Linked DNA regions of Homo sapiens: regions 1 and 3 are each linked to region 2. The links come from fine-mapping of genetic effects on gene expression. A gene starts in region 2. Each other region holds a variant in brackets. All regions are shown on one strand. Distances are between the middles of the regions.

The links. PIP is the estimated chance that this variant, and not a neighbour inherited with it, causes the effect. A credible set is the group of variants that fine-mapping cannot tell apart.
Region 1: its variant is the best candidate, but not a certain one, in a credible set for the expression of P2RY13 in whole blood (TOPMed, PIP 0.66).
Region 3: its variant is the best candidate, but not a certain one, in a credible set for the expression of P2RY13 in whole blood (TOPMed, PIP 0.58).

The regions. Positions count from the first base shown.
Region 1 is chr3:151,251,620-151,258,339 of GRCh38, forward strand. The region is part of intron 16 of MED12L (mediator complex subunit 12L); the gene reads left to right. All of the region lies in intron 1 of P2RY14 (purinergic receptor P2Y14), which reads right to left. Among named protein-coding and RNA genes, the nearest start is that of P2RY14, 24 kb to the right of the region's middle. The variant T/C (reference allele first, on the strand shown) is at 2,972.
Region 2 is chr3:151,325,749-151,332,468 of GRCh38, forward strand. P2RY13 (purinergic receptor P2Y13) reads right to left here and starts at 3,801. Exons shown (of 2, transcript NM_176894.3): 1 at 3,733-3,801; 2 at 564-3,259. The coding sequence starts at 3,780. The coding sequence ends at 2,243. The region is part of intron 16 of MED12L (mediator complex subunit 12L); the gene reads left to right.
Region 3 is chr3:151,393,731-151,398,730 of GRCh38, forward strand. It overlaps MED12L (mediator complex subunit 12L), which reads left to right. Exons shown (of 45, transcript NM_001393769.1): 39 at 926-1,137. Among named protein-coding and RNA genes, the nearest start is that of P2RY12, 11 kb to the left of the region's middle. The variant T/C (reference allele first, on the strand shown) is at 2,074.

The DNA of each region.
Region 1 (6,720 bases), 74 kb before region 2:
TCTTCTTCCACCACTATTTGCCTTGGTCTGTATATCACAGCAACACTCAATTGTTTGAACTCTCTGTGAATATCTGTGGTTCTTGCCCCATTGCTTGGGCTTAAGATCTTTCCTCTGCCTAGAACAGCTCTCTGGAATAATTTCTCTTCTTTCACCTGGCTTATTCTGAATTTGAATTGCATTTTAAAAAATTTCAGCTATTTGTGTACTTGCTTCTCAGTCTTTATTATATCCACATGCCACCTGATCTGTTTATATCTGATATTTATGTACATGGAATCACCTTAAAAATTAAATGTTTACCCTCATCCTAAGTAAAAATAGCTTTGAAGTCACAGATTTTGATTCTTTTAACATACCTTGAAATTATTACATAACTGTGTAATTTGTCTGAGTTCTATTTAACCTGTGTGTTTATCCCTGTGGAAACATACTACTTTCAGATGCAGTTGGCCCACCCTTTCCTATGGGAGGTTATTCCTGGACCACCCATCCCCTCCCTCCCTATGCAGGATAAACTCACCTTCCTGTGTTACCAAAAAGTACTATTAATATCTCCATTCATTCATCTTTCTATCCATCTGTTTATCCAGTCACCCAACTAATAATTTATTAGTAACCTTCTGTATTAAATACTGTGGGAGGTACAACCAGGAGTAGTGCTTAACTTGTTTATACCTTGTGTTCCATTATTGGGACACTAAGCTCATGGGAGTTATTCATATCCTATTGCTCATGGTCATCGCTAAGATCTGATTTTTCATAGAAAATAATTGCAACTTCTGGCATAAATACTGATTTTTAATTGTCTGCCAGTTGTTTCTCCCAACTAGATTGGGTGAGCTGTTGAGAGCCAGGGCAGTGTCTTAATTTTGCATCTTTGGCACCTGACATTTTTATTCATTTAATTAAAGGAATATAAAAGTAAAGATGTGTTGCTTCCTTAATTTTCTCTTTCAAGTTTTACTTATACTTGTGTTTCGTAAATGATACTTCTAAACATGTTCATAAAGGCCAGAGTGAAAGTAAAAAAGTAAAAGTTAATATGTTCATTTTTATTTTTGAAGGCTTATGATGCATGCAAATAGACTGTCTTTTGTACATATTCAGTTTGCTATGCAGGAGTAGGTTTGTTCATATGTAATCTACTAACTTATCTACTAACTAGATAAGTTCTAGAACTTATCTAGAAAACCTTGAGTAAAATGTGTGTATTTTAACCAAAACTGGTATTTGGGGTTGTGTGGATCAAACCTAGTCCAATTTTATTGATTTAAAGCAATGACTGTAGTGTTAAAAGGAGCATGTACTACATTAAAATGACATAGGGAATGTGTATACATTTAGGAGAATATTTATTTTAAGGGAACTTGCCCTTAAAATAAATATTACATGTCGTGAGCTAAAGGGAGAAATTATGTTGCCTTAAACTAAAGTCCCTGTCTTTTGAGTTCAACACTCTTGGGAAATTGTAAGGAAAATGTATTAACAGAATCCACTAGCATGCAGCTAAGGACTTCTGGAGATCTGGGGTCATGACAGGCACCCTGTATAGTGATATAAATGTCAGTGTCTGAGATTTAAGAGCCTGTTCCGAGAAAAGCCAACAAATATGGAGAGTATATTCCTATAAATGAGTTAATTGAGAGGCACGTATACTGCACTCAAGTTTTGCACTGTGCCGGAAACCATTGACTGTCCCAGGGGCCTTCCGCTCTTACCCCTCACTCCAGTTTAGAGTGGAGCAACAGCAGCATAAGATACACATTTTAATATGGCTTAGATCATGTTCATTTCCAAACACACCTTCTGTTCTCCCTCCTCTGGCCTTTGTTGGGCCGTTTCCTAAGCCTGGCATGGGCCCTCTTAAATTTCAACTTTAGTGGAGCTTTCCTTTATGTTCTTACTGAGAATGAATGGTTTTCCTCTCTCTGAATTCCTATAGTGCTTAATTTAATTCTACTTAGGCCACCCCTCAGGCTTTGTACTGTATCACAGATGGTGATGGCTGTGTCTTCTGATTTTTTCTTTTTTTGTGAGGGGGTGGGTGGGTATTTTGCTGATGTTGCCCCAGTCTCATTCATGGAGTCATTTGGCTTGTCTGGGGAATGGGGTGGGGCAGGTGACTTTTTTGCAGCCTCTCTCATCCATATTGCCAGGCTGTCCAGGATTACTTTCTGGGCTTGAAACATTGTCCTTTTGCTGAGAGCAATCCATGGACACCTGACTCCTAAGACTTAGCTCCACTGAAAAAGGTCTTTCATATCCAAGAAGGTGATTTAATTTAATCAGTGAGGACCTCCACTACTTTTTTTTTCTTCTTCTAGTCCAAGGAATGGATACATTTGATATACCTTCTTTTTGTTTTGATTTTTTCTTGTTTTTTTTTTTTGTTAATTTAAACTTTTAAGATTTATCAAAGTTATGCATTTGTGTACTTTAAGAAACAATTTAAAAAAACATATAATGAAAAAAATAGAAGTCCATACCCTTTTCTTATGCCCTGGTAGCCACCTCTTTTTCCTTTTATCTATTTTTAGGTATTAGTGCCTGTATTTCTTATGTAACTGGAGGTTCTTGGCTTTTGATAGTGTCTGTTGACTTCCTTGTGTGGAAGATGAGGATTTAGCTCACTGTGCACGTTTCCCTTTACCAGATAATTATGTCCACAATTTTTGGATAAATCAGCATCTTTCATTCACGTAACTAGAGCTATATGAGTATTATTTATAGCAGAGGCTTAACATTTACGTTTGAAGGATTGCAACTCCCTAATTTCATCTAGTGACCAGGGGAAACCTTGCTGTCTTGGTCTAATGAGGGCAGGCTTCCCTCTGGGTTCTGCCTGCCCATTTGCCCATTTTCCCATTTATAATTAGTTGAGATATGTAAACATGCTATATAAATGTTAGCTGTTATTATTTCAATATTATAATTTGAACCAAACCTTATTTAATCTAGTTCTTAGCTA[T/C]ACGTGTATGTGTAAGCTTAAAAGTACTTTTGTGAACAGCTGCATTTAGAGAGAAATGTGAAGTCCAAGTGCATGTTTATGCATATGATAAAACTTTCGCAGCATAGATGCTTCTTAGCATTACAACTCAACAGGCAGAGGAGATTCGTGTTGACAAATGTGCTTGTTATTAATAACTTTGTGTTACATTTCACCGGAGAGACCTCTAGCTTACCAGTTTTAGGCCTTTTGCTTTTGGCAGGTTGCAATTATTGCTGTCTTATAAATGTCACATACATGATATATATACACACTTCCAAAACTGTGTTTTTCATTCTTGTCGGAATAGTTGAGACTTGTCTGCTACCAAAAGTCTGAGTCAGATTCTGATACTTTGCCTTGCTGCTCTTTTTTTTGTAGTTTTCCCAGAAACTTTATATTATACTTAACAATATAAATATAGTATTATACTCATAATAAGCGAGGCCTTTGCTTGTATTCATTTAAAAATGTAGAGAAGCGCTTAAAAGATAGGAACTTTCGAGTCACAAATAGGCAGGCTGAAGATTGACTTATGGAATTGATGAAGCTGTTGGGAGACCAATTTCATGTAAGAAGGAGCAATCTGAGGATAGAACTATCAGCCATATAACAGGGGATGTGAGAGGGATACAGTGACTTCCATTTGTTTGTAAAAATGCTGTTTTGGGATTTATACTAATGGGTACCCTTCATGTGTGACATGCAGTGTGACTTAAATATCTACCTTAGCTTTTGCCATAGTTCAAAAGTTGGGGGAGGGAGTTTCTAGATAATGAGCATCCAGTAGAGTAGACGGAAAGTCCACGGCAGTTAAATTGCTCAGCAGAAAAGGCCAGGGGGAGGGGGCTGGGGGTGCGGGCAGGCGGTTTGGGTATAAATGCCCACCAACTTTGGTTCTGCCATGGCTGGGGAGGAGGGTCTGTGCTGCTATGGGCCTTTTCAGACATCTCTAACTGAACACACGCGATTTTTCCTGCAGCTTCCCTTCTATAGTGGAGCTTAGAAAGTCTTGTCAAAACTGGCCCCTGAGATGAAACCTTTGGCCATCTTAAGCTAGTGTTTTATCCAGGACAAATGAAGAAAAAATACAGCGAACTTGTTTACTCCAGCATAGAGACAAAGTCAGGATTAGATTAATTGTGATTCTTTGCAGTTAATGCTACATAACGTGGCATATGGAGTTAAATTTGGATATACAAGCCAGCAGCACTGCCTTGTATAAACCAGGAGACCTCAGGCTGGTAATGTAATCTCTCTCAATCTGTTTCCCCATCTGCAAAAAGAGTCTAGTACTACCTGCACTATTAAAGTTGTTGGAAAGTTTAAATCACGTAAGGTGTATTTTCTTACTATAATGCCTAGCTCTAAGGTCAGTAAATGGTAGGGTCTCTTTTTACTATGACAGGCTAATTGTTCCTTTACAATGCTTTCAAAACTGCATGGTTCAACATATGCTAGATAGAAATACAGTGCTATGCTTTGTGTTTTTAATGAATATTAATTGTTATGGAAAGAGCCAAATTTGAGTAGGTCTTTGACCCAGCCACTGTGGTTATAGGAAGGCTCTTTTAGATACATAGCAATACATAACTCATGGAAAGTATTTTCAAATTATAAATCTAATACAAGAGGAAATAAGATCTCATATGCAGTACCCTGGTAAACTCAAACTATTACGGATGGGGCACACATGATGGAGTGCTTCTCGGAGCTTTACATTTTTGCCTCAACATGCCTAAGGTAATAGGAGATATTCTCATCTGTGCTTTACTCTGTGGTCTCAGTAAGGAAGGGATGGAGACACATCCAGGATCAACCAGAGCTGGTGGTCTTTCCCTTGGTCCCCATTGCCAGTCCCACCCTGTCTCCACAGGGAGTGTGAATGAGGATGGCTCCATCTTTCTTCCCTCTTGTCAACCACAGAAATTAGGGTTTTGCTATTTTTTTCCTAATGTAGGCAAAACATGTGGTCCTAAAGTACCTCTCCATTGCCAGAAATCACAACAGACTGCTGTCCTACAGGAAAGACAAAAGCTTATTACACTAAAGATGAGTTTCTCGTATTTTAAGATCTAAGAGATGCTAAATAATAGTAAAGGCAGGAAACATTTATTTTTCTTAGGTAAGGAGAACAAAAACTCATACAAGCAGAGCATTTTGTTAATACTTTGTTAGTTCAGCTGACTGGTTATTAATCCAGTCTGTTTTTTTTTTTTTCTTGGTGGGAAATGACAGAGGTTTTTTTTTTGTTGTTTTTTTTTTTAAATGGGTCATGGGGAAAATAGTGTTTGAATTTGCTAAATAATCTCTTGCCATTTGCCAAATCAAATATCACTTATCAAGTCCACATATGAAGTATGTATGATTTGCCAGGAGTTAGGATACTTAACCCTGTATTAGAAGCACATGGATTTGAAAACAACAGAAAAGCAGCACGATACAGCTGCTTCTGAGATACAAGAAATGGTGTAGTTTTAAAAAGAAATGCTTATGAGAGATTTTAGACATTTTTGAGCTGTTAAGTTTTCTAGAACCATTTGGAATGATTTTGAAGTGACCTCGCCTGGAAAGCATATTTATGTAGTTTCTTTCTCTGTACCACTTATTCTTCAGCTTCAGTGTAATTCTCAGTTTACTGTATGCCAGTTGGCATGTTGTAGTTTAAATATTTTCAGAACCTTTCCACTGCGTATTAATCTCTTAGACAGTTGAAACATTTGTTGACCTGTAGTCCTGTTTTTTTAAATTGTTTATGTGAGAAACAATATATCTGAATGATTAAGAGCATTGTCTCCAGAATAGATTGCCTTAGTTAGAATACCGGCTGAGTTACACATTAGCTTTGTGTCATGGGGCACATTACTTAACCTCTCTGTGCTTCAGCACCCTCATCGTTAGGAGAATCTGTACAAAAGTGATTATAATATCTACTTCAGAATACTGTTGTGAGGAATATTGTTCTGTATGCCTGGCACATAGAAGAGAAAAATAAATATTGTCTGTCATCAGTATTATTTCGTATATGGAGAACTGAAAGGAGCTTCAAGATTTGCATTGTGTGGGCTTTCATACCATCTTCAAGAGATGATTTTTTGGAGAAAACATGCTTTTGAAATTCAGTGTAAACATGGTATTTATGGAGCTATATCTCACAACAATTTTCCTCTGGCTTACATTTTAGACCACCTTTTGTTCAAGTGTCATGTGGACCACTTGGCTTAGATGAGAGTCACACAAATTTTTATATTCCAAGTTCCTCCTTCTCTCTCCCTACTACAGCCTTTGAATGGCAATTAATATTGCTGCTTCCTTCCCCACCTTCCCTCTCTAGCTTCTTTTAGGCATTTTGTAAATAGATAACATAAGAAACAATTTGTTTTGGCCACAAGTTCAATTTTTCTGGCATAAAGCTGTATTTATTTTTGATATTCCTGATTAGTAAAGGTGCAAGCCCAGTATCTATACCATTCCAATCTGTGGGTCCCTGAGTTGCTCCAAGGCATTTACAGGCAAACTCCTGGGATTCATTTTCTTCCACAGGCCCAAAGTGGGAGTTCCGATATGGTATGAGACCACTGTGAGATGGATTAGAAAGATCTGGAAGCTAGATGGGAACTAGCTCGGGCATAATCAAGTACTCTTGACCCTCACAATTGTTGCTTTCTAATATAATTTCACTAGTTCTTCCCACTTTCTTTAATTCTGTTTGTTGTCTTGTTGCTGACAAA
Region 2 (6,720 bases):
GTATACTTTAGGTGTACCCACATTAAGTAGAGATTGAAATTGTCATTAGAGGCAAAATACACAGGTTACCCCACCAGACATACCTGGCTGTTTAACAAGGGTAGCTTGGATGCAGTTATTTACATGATTATAGTCTATTTGTGATTGTGTAATGTACTCAGTAGAGGTAATATGGATTTAGTGGCATCCCTAATAGTAATGATTATTTAATTCTTTTATCAGAGAGAATGAAGATCAGACATCAAGAGTACTTTCTAAAGGTGTTTGTTATATTCACAGTTACAAATTTTACTTAACCATTATCAATAGTGCATAGCTAAAGGATTTTGTCAATAGCTTTAAAACTTTGGATTTGGCTATTCCATGATCCTCCTGTTGTCATGATCATTCACTAGTGACCCCAGGAGCACCACAATTTTCAGGCCCTACATACATGTTATAGGAGAGTGGACAGAGCTTGAGCTTTCATTTCAAGAAATTTATGTTGTCTTTGGATAATAAAAACATCAATGAGAATTGGCTTCCCTTTTGCTTCTCTAATACATAAAATAAACCAAATGGGCTTTATTTTATCAAACATTTATTGATTGCACAATGAAACAATCTCTCCTTTCAGATATATACATCAGTTACTAAAAGAGTAGATACAAAGGTCAGGAAGTAATTACAATGCAATGTGATAAGTTTAATAATATAGGTGTGACAGCATACAGAGGAGGGGGTGATTGGGTTTGAGGTGATGGTGGGATATTGGCCAGGTAATATTTCATGGACCAAGTGATGACAACATAGGGTTTCACAGATGGATAAGAGTCTTCCAAGTGTACCAGGGGGAAATATACATGTGTGGTGCCAAAACAGAGTATGGCATTTTCTGAAAGTTAGAAATTTATACAAGAGTATAAAGTTCAAGAGATGGATAAGTAGCTAGGAGGTAAGGCCAGAAAGGTAGGCAAGTTCTAGGGCCTTTGAGGCCATGGAAGAAAACGTGGGCTTCACCCTACGATGGTCGTGTTGGAGCTCGTGGCACATTTACAGAGCTTAACTACTCCTTTATGTATTTTTTCTAGAAGATGTAGACTCTTATCCATCATTTCAGAAAGCCACATTTTACTTTTTTGAATCACAGAAGGATGCAAGAAAAAATACCAAGGTAAATAAATACAAGCAGGGTCACCATCCTTTGAAAAATCTCTCAATATGGATGTTACTGATTGTGGGTCAGCAATTACGTCTTTGTATGTATCGAGAATAGCAATTCTATTTAAAACATCTGTAGACCATGGACTGTAGGTCGTATTATGGGAGATACCAAGAAAATCTGGCATGTCTGTCTCTCAAGAAGCTTTAACATTTTTAGCGGATGCAGTCAAGAATATAGCTAACTAGAAAAGGGAGATCTGCATTGAGAACCCTATCACACACCCAAACAGTAGAAGTATTTGTTTTTAATGAGGAGGGTGGGGCAGGGGGATAGGGGTTGTGGTCCAGGAAGGCATTGCTGAGTAGGTGCCATGTTTAACCATCATTAGAGTATTTGCTGGACAGAAGGAGAATTCCAAAGAATAGTTAACACAGCATTCTCACACTTGAATTGTACACACTTAAGGTGTAAGCAAAGTGGCTTAATAATGGTGCTTGTGCCTCCTATGGTATATTATTGTAATGTGAAAGAGGCTGTTTGTAATTGTAAGGAGAAAATCCTTTACCCAGGATTTCAGAGGTCTTGCTGACCCACTTCAGTTCCTCAGACTCTTCAAGTCTGCATCCCTTTCAACCCCTGGCTGCAGTTTTCAGCAATGGACTTCAAGAGTTGGGCGTTTTTTTTTTCTTTCAGCACATATCTACATTTAAGGGGCACAAAAGCAGTAGTGTTATGTGAATTGTGGAAAAGAATGTGAGAAGGTGTTTGGAGGGGAGGTTTGTAGGGATATACGTTTCTCCTTAGTCTTTTCCAAAATGTTAAAGTGAAATGCTCTTGAAATTAAAAAAAAAAAAAAAGAAAGAAAGAAATAATGACCTCTAGTGGCCATTTGTATCCTGTTGCATTCTCTTAGTAATGGTTCATTCAGCTTATGAATAGATCTATGTGGATTTAAATTTTATATAATCTTTTCTGTACACGAGGATAATAAAATGTAAGAGAGCATTTGTTCCAATCTTTTTTTCTTGGTTAAATTTGATTTCCACATTATCTACGGAAGTCTCATCAATAAATAGAAGTTAACCCTATGTACAGTTGTCAGCCTAAGGTTATGTTGTCTGTCTGACTGCTATGATTTTCTTGGCTTGATGCTGTGGTCTTTCTCCCTTGCATACATGGTAGCTTTTCTGTGAATTTTTTACATAAGAATATGTATATTAAGGGATCCATACAAATGTTAGTTGCTGCCAAAAAGAGAGTTGTTTCTTTAGCAATAAACAGTTGATTTTGCAGTCTACAGTCAGTCTTATTGTTGGTTTGACTGTGAGTATATGGAACTCTGGCAAAATGAAATGGAGCAAAACACACAAAGAAGACAGCCACGACAACAAATACTTTGCCTTCCAGCTTTTTGTTGTTTTTTCTGTCCTTACTTTTGGACTTTCTATAAGAATCATATACTTTTTTTGCAATAACCACATAAAACACAAGCATTAGGATAAAAACAGTCCAGAAAATAAACTGGCATATGTTATTTACCATTTGATGCCATTTCAGCCCCAGAGGCCCCTTTAAGGAAGCACACTTTTTCACAGACGATGGTGTTGCTTCCTTGTTGCTCAAGATCGTATTTGGCAGGGAGATGAAGAACAAAAAGAACCAGATGAAGATTGAGACCGTTTTTGCAAAAACAGGTTTTTTTAGAAAAATATTTCTCAAAGGTCTGATGATCTTGAGGAATCTGTCAAAGGCTATGAGCCCTAACAGCACGATGCCCACATACATGGTCTCATAAAATATCACCGAAGAAAAACGACACACAAAAGCTCTGAGCTGCCAGGGTGCCAGGTGTGAGTCAGAGAGGATTTTGAAAGGAAGCATGAGTGTCATTATCAAGTCGGCCACCAAAGTGTTTTTGAGGTAGATGATGAAGGTGGAGGAGCTGGGGATGTGAACAAACACCCACAGAGCCAAAGTATTCAGCAGGATGCCGGTCAAGAAAACCACTGTGTAGAGGGCTGGGAATACCAGCTGTACTATCCGAGTGTCTCTGGGGCACCGCTCAGATCTGTTGAAGCCTTGCATCACTGTGGTGTTCATTGCTTCCAGTGTCACCTGTTACCAATAAACATATATACAAACAAAAGAAAACAAAAAGCCCTTCATGATTTTCAAATGCTATTTTTTAAAAACAGACTTTATGTTTATAGCATATTAACATCCTGCATTTATCCAACACTTTCAATAGATGTGTTGAAAAGGAAAATACTGTTTTCTGGCTAGAATTTTTAAAGCATATAATACATTTTTGGTACTTTTAACAGTACCATTACTTTCACATCCTTGTGAAATCCAAATAACAGGTTCTGCCTCATTCACAGGTGCTACTGTTAGCCATAAAACAAAACACTGTTTAAGAGATAATAATACATTATTATTACTAATACATCAGATTGCTGTAAATTATGTAATTTCTTATGCTCATAAACTATGGTTTGTAGAATATTAACTTTAAAGCACCTTTTTTCCCTTAAGCATATTCTTTTATATAAGCAAGCACACTCATAATAACAAAAATTGAAATTCACCTTTGGGAGGATACTCAGTTCTCTCTGTCTTCTTATGGCGGCAGTCATTAGTTCAGCCTACAAATGAGCATGTGAAGCAAATGTTCTGCTTTCTTATAGTGGATTTCCTTCCTTATTTTTACTTATGTAATGTGACCCATTAGAACCTCTTCATATTTAGACCTTTGGGACATTTGCTAATACTCTATTTTAGTTCAAACTTTCATACTGTTAATCTGTGACTTGAATAAAGAAGCTTATTTGCAATTATCTTTAAATTTCTTCATAACTTTCTTGAAGTTTATCTTCTTGATCTGCATGTTCAGTGAACTTTTTGAGTGCCTCTTGTATATAGTGGAAAGTAGAAAGATGAAGAAAATAGTCCCAAATTACAATCAAGTAGGAGAATAAGACTACCTAAAATCAGACAGAATAATCTTCTGTATCCTTGTAAACTGGATTTTCCAGTAATTTGTGTTCAGGAAGACGGTATGTTTATTTTTGTAGGTATTTGACTTAGTCTTCTGGTTTGGGGATCTCTGAGAGTTAACATGATGTTTTCTGAGAGGTGAAGACTATTAGATCCAGATTTTTGGAGTTAGAATCCCAGTTCCACCAATTAATTGGGATTAGATTATAGATAAATGATTCAACAGCTCTGTGTCTCAATTTCCTCATCTGTGTAATGGGTTTGAAAATAGTATCTAACACACTGTGTTATTAAGAATGAATTGGTTGCCTGGAATAGTGCTTGACATATAGGAGGCACTAAAAAATGTTAGCCACTTTTAGTGGCTTTTAGTCCCATTGCCATGGGAATGAATTGCAAATCCAGATAGAGATATTATACTCTTTCACTTAGTAGAGGGCCATTTTTAGAAATCTTTTTTGTATTTGGTGTATTTCGAGTGCAGAGGACTTCAGGAATTTCATCAATCAACATTGGGCCAATATCTGTGCATTTTTTTTGCTTTAATTCTCTTCAAGTTTGAAAGATGTAATGGTGCTTTTGCATAGAGAAAGTTGTTGTCCATGGCAGAAATCTACTTGCCAGGTAGGCATAGGAAAAGCGGAAATTAGGAGATCTTACGGAGGATGTGGAGTTCATGGTGAGTTTCATTTCATGTTTCTTGCCACAAGTGTTACCATGGAGTTAGACGAGACTAGTGTTAGTTGATCACAAAGTTTTGGGTGACTTGGCTTTGAATTCTGAGAAGAAAAACTTAATATCCCCCTGGACATTTTAAAATATGAGGCAATACAGTGTCTAATAGTTTTGATTAGACTACCCAATAACGGCACAGTTTGAAAAATTTCTCTTTGACTGAAATAAATTAATCCTTGGGAGTATAGATTCAAGATTTCATTAATAGAACATACATGTATGTCTTAAACATAAATGTATATCTTTTTGTTTGCTTCAGCAGAGGAAAAAAAATCCTTTATTTCTTAAGTAGAGAAATTTAACCTACAAAATTAATTGTAAATTTTCCTATAGCCCCAAATCCATAATCTAAAGGAAGATCTGGAATAGTTTTTCTTTAAGCAAGATAAATTCTGTGCAGGATAATTTCATAATCTGAAAACTGGAAATCACTTCTTGGTCAAATTTCAAAACACTGAAGTGTGGGAAACTTTCCAAAGAGGAACTGACTTACAGTGCCTGTTTCTAGAGTTATGGAAATAGAGTCTCTTAAATGTGGTAGATGTCAAAGTGTTTGACTATAGTAAATATCCAATAGATCATTCATTTCTATGTGTTTGTGCTTCTTATGTATTAGCTGATTTTTCCTTAGTTTACAGCAGCACTATTGCCTGCTGGGGAGGCCTTTTGCCCTTGAAGACACAGCTGAGAAGCTGCTCAGCAGAATGTTTAGGCGCCAGAGTGCCTGGGCTCAATTCCTTTTTCCAATTCTTTCTTTTCTTATGACCTTAGGCAAGCTGCTTATGCCCACTATGAAATGGTTGCCTTATCTTTACAATAAAAATAAATAATAGTATTTGCTTTACAGTGTTGTTAAAAGAATAAAATGAGTGAACATTCACCAGTGCTTAGAATAATGTCTGTCATGTGGTAGGTATCATGTAGGTTTCTTGTTAAATGAAATTGAAAGAAAATTGGAATGTTGTGCATACATATGGTGATGTCTCACGAAAGGAGAGAAGAATCAAAGAAGATACAGTGAAAGATCCCAGAGGCTAGGAGCCTATCAAATGGGAATAAACTAAACATTTAAGATCCTATAGGGCTCTAAGGAAATGTAGTTAAAAATCAGTAAAGTCACACTAGCTATACTGTTTTAAGTGATTATATTATCTTATTTAATCCTTAACAATCCCCAGAGATTGGTCCCATTTTTAGAGTTGAGAAAAAAGGAAATGCAGAAGTTAAGCCATTTTCCCCATATCATGCAACCCAAATCTGCCGTAAAGTCACACAGTTGGTCTGGTTCCAGAGCCCATGCTTGGAACCTGCCTCACTCTCTTGCCTCCGATTAAGCCATAGATAGGGTGACAGTGGAATTGTTTGCCAAATTCTGGAGTTCTTGAGCTGAAAGTTCCTGATGTGTGAGAAGGAAACAATCAGCCACAATGTTTAATGGACTTGTGAAACTTTATGCCAATGTAAATTGAGTGAAAGCAGTGTGATCAGAAGGGATACAAAGAAGATAAAATGAAAAGTCACAGAAATCAGTCTCTAGCCAGATAGGAATAAACTACTATTTCCATTTGTAGTCTTATTTGGGATTTCTCAGTTGCATCAAAATTGACAGTCCAAGGCCCAGTACCATATAAATAATATGTGAAAAGATGAGGAAGTATTTGCTTTCATTTGGGATGAAAATTGAAGTAGGAACTCCTATACTTCTATACTCTTAGAAAAGACTTTTACTTCCCATCAAAGTATACCATGGTACTTTCTCAGATTATGTGAAATTGTTTTAAAAATTCCATACAAGAGTAACTAAAAGTGGTAAACTAAAAGTGGTAATAATAAGCTGAAATAAG
Region 3 (5,000 bases), 67 kb after region 2:
ATTTTTAGTTTCCTTTCACAACTTCATAAATTGTATTGCTGATTGTGGCACTGAGTCTTTAAAAGAATGTGGGTTTTTCCAAAAAAACAGCTTTAAAATGTTTGTTTTCATCATACACCTTGCTTTATAGAAAAGATAAAACAACTTTTGTGAGGTGCTTATGTAGAGGTTTTTTTCATTTACATGTATCAAGGACTATTTTTGGTGAATGAAGAATTTACATTTATTGTGAAGCCAGCAAATGTCGACTTTTTTTTCCCTAACTTTTAAATGCGCGTGACAAATTATAATATACAAATATGTAAAGGATTTCCTGTGGTTTCTTAAGCATCGGTATAATAGTTGCTTGTTTATTTGATTTTTAGCCTTCAAAAAAGATGTTTTGTCATTACAATCATAGTACTTGAAGTTTGCAAGCATTTCAAGATTTTAAAGTATTTTCATGCCTCTGCTATAAAACAGGCATTTTCATTTTGCCATGGTGAAAAGACTTTAATGACATGAGCTTCAGATTTGATGAAAAGTACAAAAGGATTTATATGAATGGCTTAAGAACTTGGCAAAATACATCACAAAGGCAGTATGTTTTATACAAGTAATATGTTCCTGAGGGCCTTGCCTAATTTAAAACCCATGTAATTATGAAATTATGCCAACAACTGTATGTTTTACACATTTCAATTTATGAACTGAAGACCTCCATGAAATTAAAGTAGTATAATTCACTTCTACATCACTCCCCTCATCTTTTGTAAGTTATGCAACTCAACAGGTCTATAATATTTGTGGCAGGTGGGACAGTGCATTTTTTTCTACTTTGTTCATAAAGTGAGACTTAGAAGGTGAAATTTCTGTGTTTTGATACATAAAAAGACCTGTTGCATTAACGTAGTTAGAAAGTGTTTCCTTTTGGTTGCTTTTGTAGGTGGCTCCAGATTGGACCCTGCAGGCTCCTTTGTCCCAACCAACACCAAACAAGCTCTGTCAAACATGCTACAGCGGCGCTCAGGCGCCATGATGCAGCCGCCTTCTCTTCATGCAATCACATCGCAGCAGCAGTTGATACAGATGAAGCTTCTGCAGCAGCAGCAGCAACAGCGACTTCTCAGGCAAGCCCAGACTCGGCCTTTCCAACAGGTTTGTCCAGACCCCAGCAATGGAGTCCTTTGCATTTTATTACCTCTGCTAGCTTGGGATAAGTTTGGGATATGTAGCATATTCTTTCTGTATGCATATCCCTGTATACTTGTGTGAGTGCAGGTCTATCTCTCTGTTACAGGCTTGTAAATAGTTTTCCTCCATTGTACTTTACTGTTATCATTGCTCAAATAAGAATTTGATATGTCTTAGGTTTATTAAAAGTATACCTTAAAACAAAAAGAAGGGCTGATGACTTTTGGTCAATTAGAAGAAGCAGGCCTTTTATCCTTGAGGTGACCTTCTCTGAGCCCTCATTTTTCTATTATAATTACCACCATATTCTGTACTACTTTCAGCTCTTGTGTTCATGTATTATTTTTAGACTTATTACTGTGAGGTTATGTCTCTGAAGCCCTGATGTTTCCTAGGTTTTCTCTGATAGTGCCCTGCCTTTAATTTTTGTTTCTAGTGTATATTTAATAAGGTCTAGAGCAGATAAATTATAAACAACAGTCAGGATCTGGATACATTCAATTTAATTCTTGATTTATATTTCTATTTTTGTGGCCTATAACTCAATGTTCTTCATAGAAGACAGTGATCCATGTTTAAGAAAACATCAGCACTTAGTATAAACTCATGAAACACCTATGCGTCTGTACATTAAAATAAAGTGTGAGGTGAGAATGGGGATTTCTTTTTCTAGTTTCTGTATACTTGTATTTTCTAGCTTTTCTAAAATGGTCATGCAGTATTTTGATAATAATAGCTAACACTAATAGAGCACTTACTATATGCCAAAACATTTCTAAGCACTTTAGATGTATTAGCTATCTTAAGATACCAGGGTAACTCTATGAGTTAGGTACCTTCGTGATCCTCACATGGAAATAGCGAATCTACAGGTACATCCTGCTCTAAGAATAACCATAA[T/C]ACTTTCAACATAGCAAGAAATTCAAATGCTTTAAAAAATATTCTTTGTCTTTTGGATAACTTTCTAGGCATATCTCCGTTGTGTAATTTACGGCACTTCCTGCATTTGGGCCACTTAGTGATGATTTTGGTGGATGGTGATGGCAAGGTTAGTCATTATAAGGACAAGAGAGAAGAAACCAATTGAACTGTATGATGACGCAAGCAACAGTCATCACCATGTGCTTGTCTCTTCCTGACCTCTAACAATTAATTGCTTTAGCTCCCTGAGTGTCAGAAAGGATGAGTCTAAGCTGCTGCTTGCACATAAATGATGAACATTTGATTAAAATATGAAAAAAAATTATTTAATTTGCCTAAATAAGCAACATGTTTAGAGCCATTTAAAACCTCATTGGGATTTTTAGCTCTTTTTTGGGAATCAGCAAAAATAGAGTTATACTATTGCTTCAAATCATTTTTGAGTTAAAAAATTTCACTAGAAGTTGAAAAACCATCCCACTAGAATGAATTTAGCCCTCTTTCAAAGTAATAACGCCTAGGGCCAGGCGTGGTGGCTTACGCCTCTAATCCCATCACTTTTGGAGGCTGAGGCAGGTGGATCACTTGAGGTCAGGAGTTCAAGATCAACCTGGCCAACATGGTGAAACTCTGTCTCTACTAAATACAAAAATTAGGCATGGTAGAGCATGCCACACTGTAGTCCCAGCTACTTGGGAGGCTGAGGCAGGAGAATTACTTGAACCTGGGAGGTGGAGTTTGCAGTGAGCCGAGATCACGCCACTGCACTCCAGCCCGGTCAACAGAGTGAGACTCCGTCTCAAGAAAAATAAATAAAATAATAAATAAAGTAAAGTAAAACTTGCCACTTTAATTCATTTTTTCATATCTACCTTTTTATCACAAGGCATAGTTTTTCTTATTTATAGCCCACTTTCAAACTGTTACTGCCAAATTAACTTTGAAGTACTTGTTAAGTTGTTCCTAGCACTAGGGAAAAGCCCACTGGGCCATTATGGGTAAATATACCTGTTTTTAAAAGGTTCACTTCCTGATATAAGCCATGACAAACGATTTCAGCTAGAAATTTTTTTAAAGCATTTAATTGAATAATCTACATGTAATCAAAGATATCCTTGCATATTTGGGGAAGTGTACCTTGATGACACCATTACTTTTCTTTCTCCTACCAAAAATACCTGGCTGTATCCTTTTGTACCACCGACAGTTGTACTGCTTGTACCAATGGGAATTAATTGTGATTTCATTCTTTTTCTGATTCTTTTGTGCTAACTCCATTACAGTGTTGGATTTTTTTTCTTTATTCTTCTCTTTTTAAACTTTTAAGACCAGAAATGCCATCTTCAAATAGTAAAAGCTCCACTTCATAACAGTGATTGTACAGTATTCACCTCTTCATCTCAGACTCACTTCATATTGTTTTTAACAGTTGAAACTTAACTATGGAGTCTCTGAAGGGCTTTCACAAGTAGGATATGTCTTTTTCTCTCATCATTCTTCAAGTGTTAGATAATTGAGGAAAATAGTATTCTTAAAGGAAGAGAAATGCATACATTATGCAGTCACGATGTACAGTGATCCTGTAGTACATCGAGCTAATGAGATTTGCATGTAGCATCCGTCATGGTACCTGTACTTAGGAGGTTCTGAGGAAATGTTAGTGCCTTTCCTCTCAATAGATCATGTATAAGCTATTAATATAACTGGAATTTAGCAAATATGGTCTTATGGCAGAAAAAAATTCTTCTGATAATCCTTCAAAATCTAAAGACAGAATTATATGGAATGTAAGCAATATTGATCAATTGTTTTAATATCTGTTGCTGGGCACAGTTTGCTTTTCTAGTGAGTACTGACCATTTCGTGCTATGGCAGGAAGATTTTCTCAGGTTACTCACCCACATATGATATGAATTTCTCTAGCTACATAAGGACTAATAATATAGTTACTTTTTCATTTTTTGGCTTCTTGTAGAGAAAAGTAAGTAGATATGTTTTTATTCCAGAGGTCCATTTTCTTAAATATAACAAACATATTAGAGAATTTCCATTTATATTAACCTTCAAAACTGATTTTGGAATTCAGCAGATGCTTTTATAGGCTGATGAGTTTCTCCAGGTTTTGGATGTGACTGCTTCCTACGACAGTTTTCTAGTAACCCACTGGTTACCCCCTTTTCTTATGAGGTCAGACACTGGGCTGTATACTATTTTGTATTATCCTTTCATCTGCTAAGCACACGGTACAATCTGTGAGCTGTGTATCAAATGAATAATGTAAGATTTGAACAGTTGCTTCCAGGAGCCTAAAGTTTCTTAGTAGCCTTAATCCTCAGCATTCTGATTTTTATCCACACACCCTTCTCATAGCTTTCCCTTCCAGTGCTTCCAGAAACTGACCCTTCTAGTGACGTCTGCTACAGTTGTTTTGGAAACCTAAATGGGAAAGGTAAACATAAATTCCTGAACTCAGGATATATCTAAGACCTCACAGAGTCCCCTTATCCTCTTTCTGTCTAGTGGGGGAAGTTGGCATATGCAGAAACCATCCAGCCTTCAGTGATACACAATGAAAACTAGAATTCCATAAAATAACCCTCTAGTTCCACTGCAGAGATTGTACATGAGCTTCAGTCAGTCATGGAATATTCTGTCATGGATTGTCTTATATTTCCTCAGGAATGTGTTAAGACAGTGTTTAACACAGTACCTAGACAACAAGTGCTGAATAGCATGGATATTGTTAAGTATTTTAATGAGATTATTTGATGTAATAATTGTTATAATTGAGTATATTTCCCTATAGCTTTAGTGCATATGGACATGCAGAAAGATGTTTTGGCAAGAAACCTGTTTTCATTCTTCTTGGTTGCAGTCTTCATCTAGGAAAATACAGTAGTCCTATC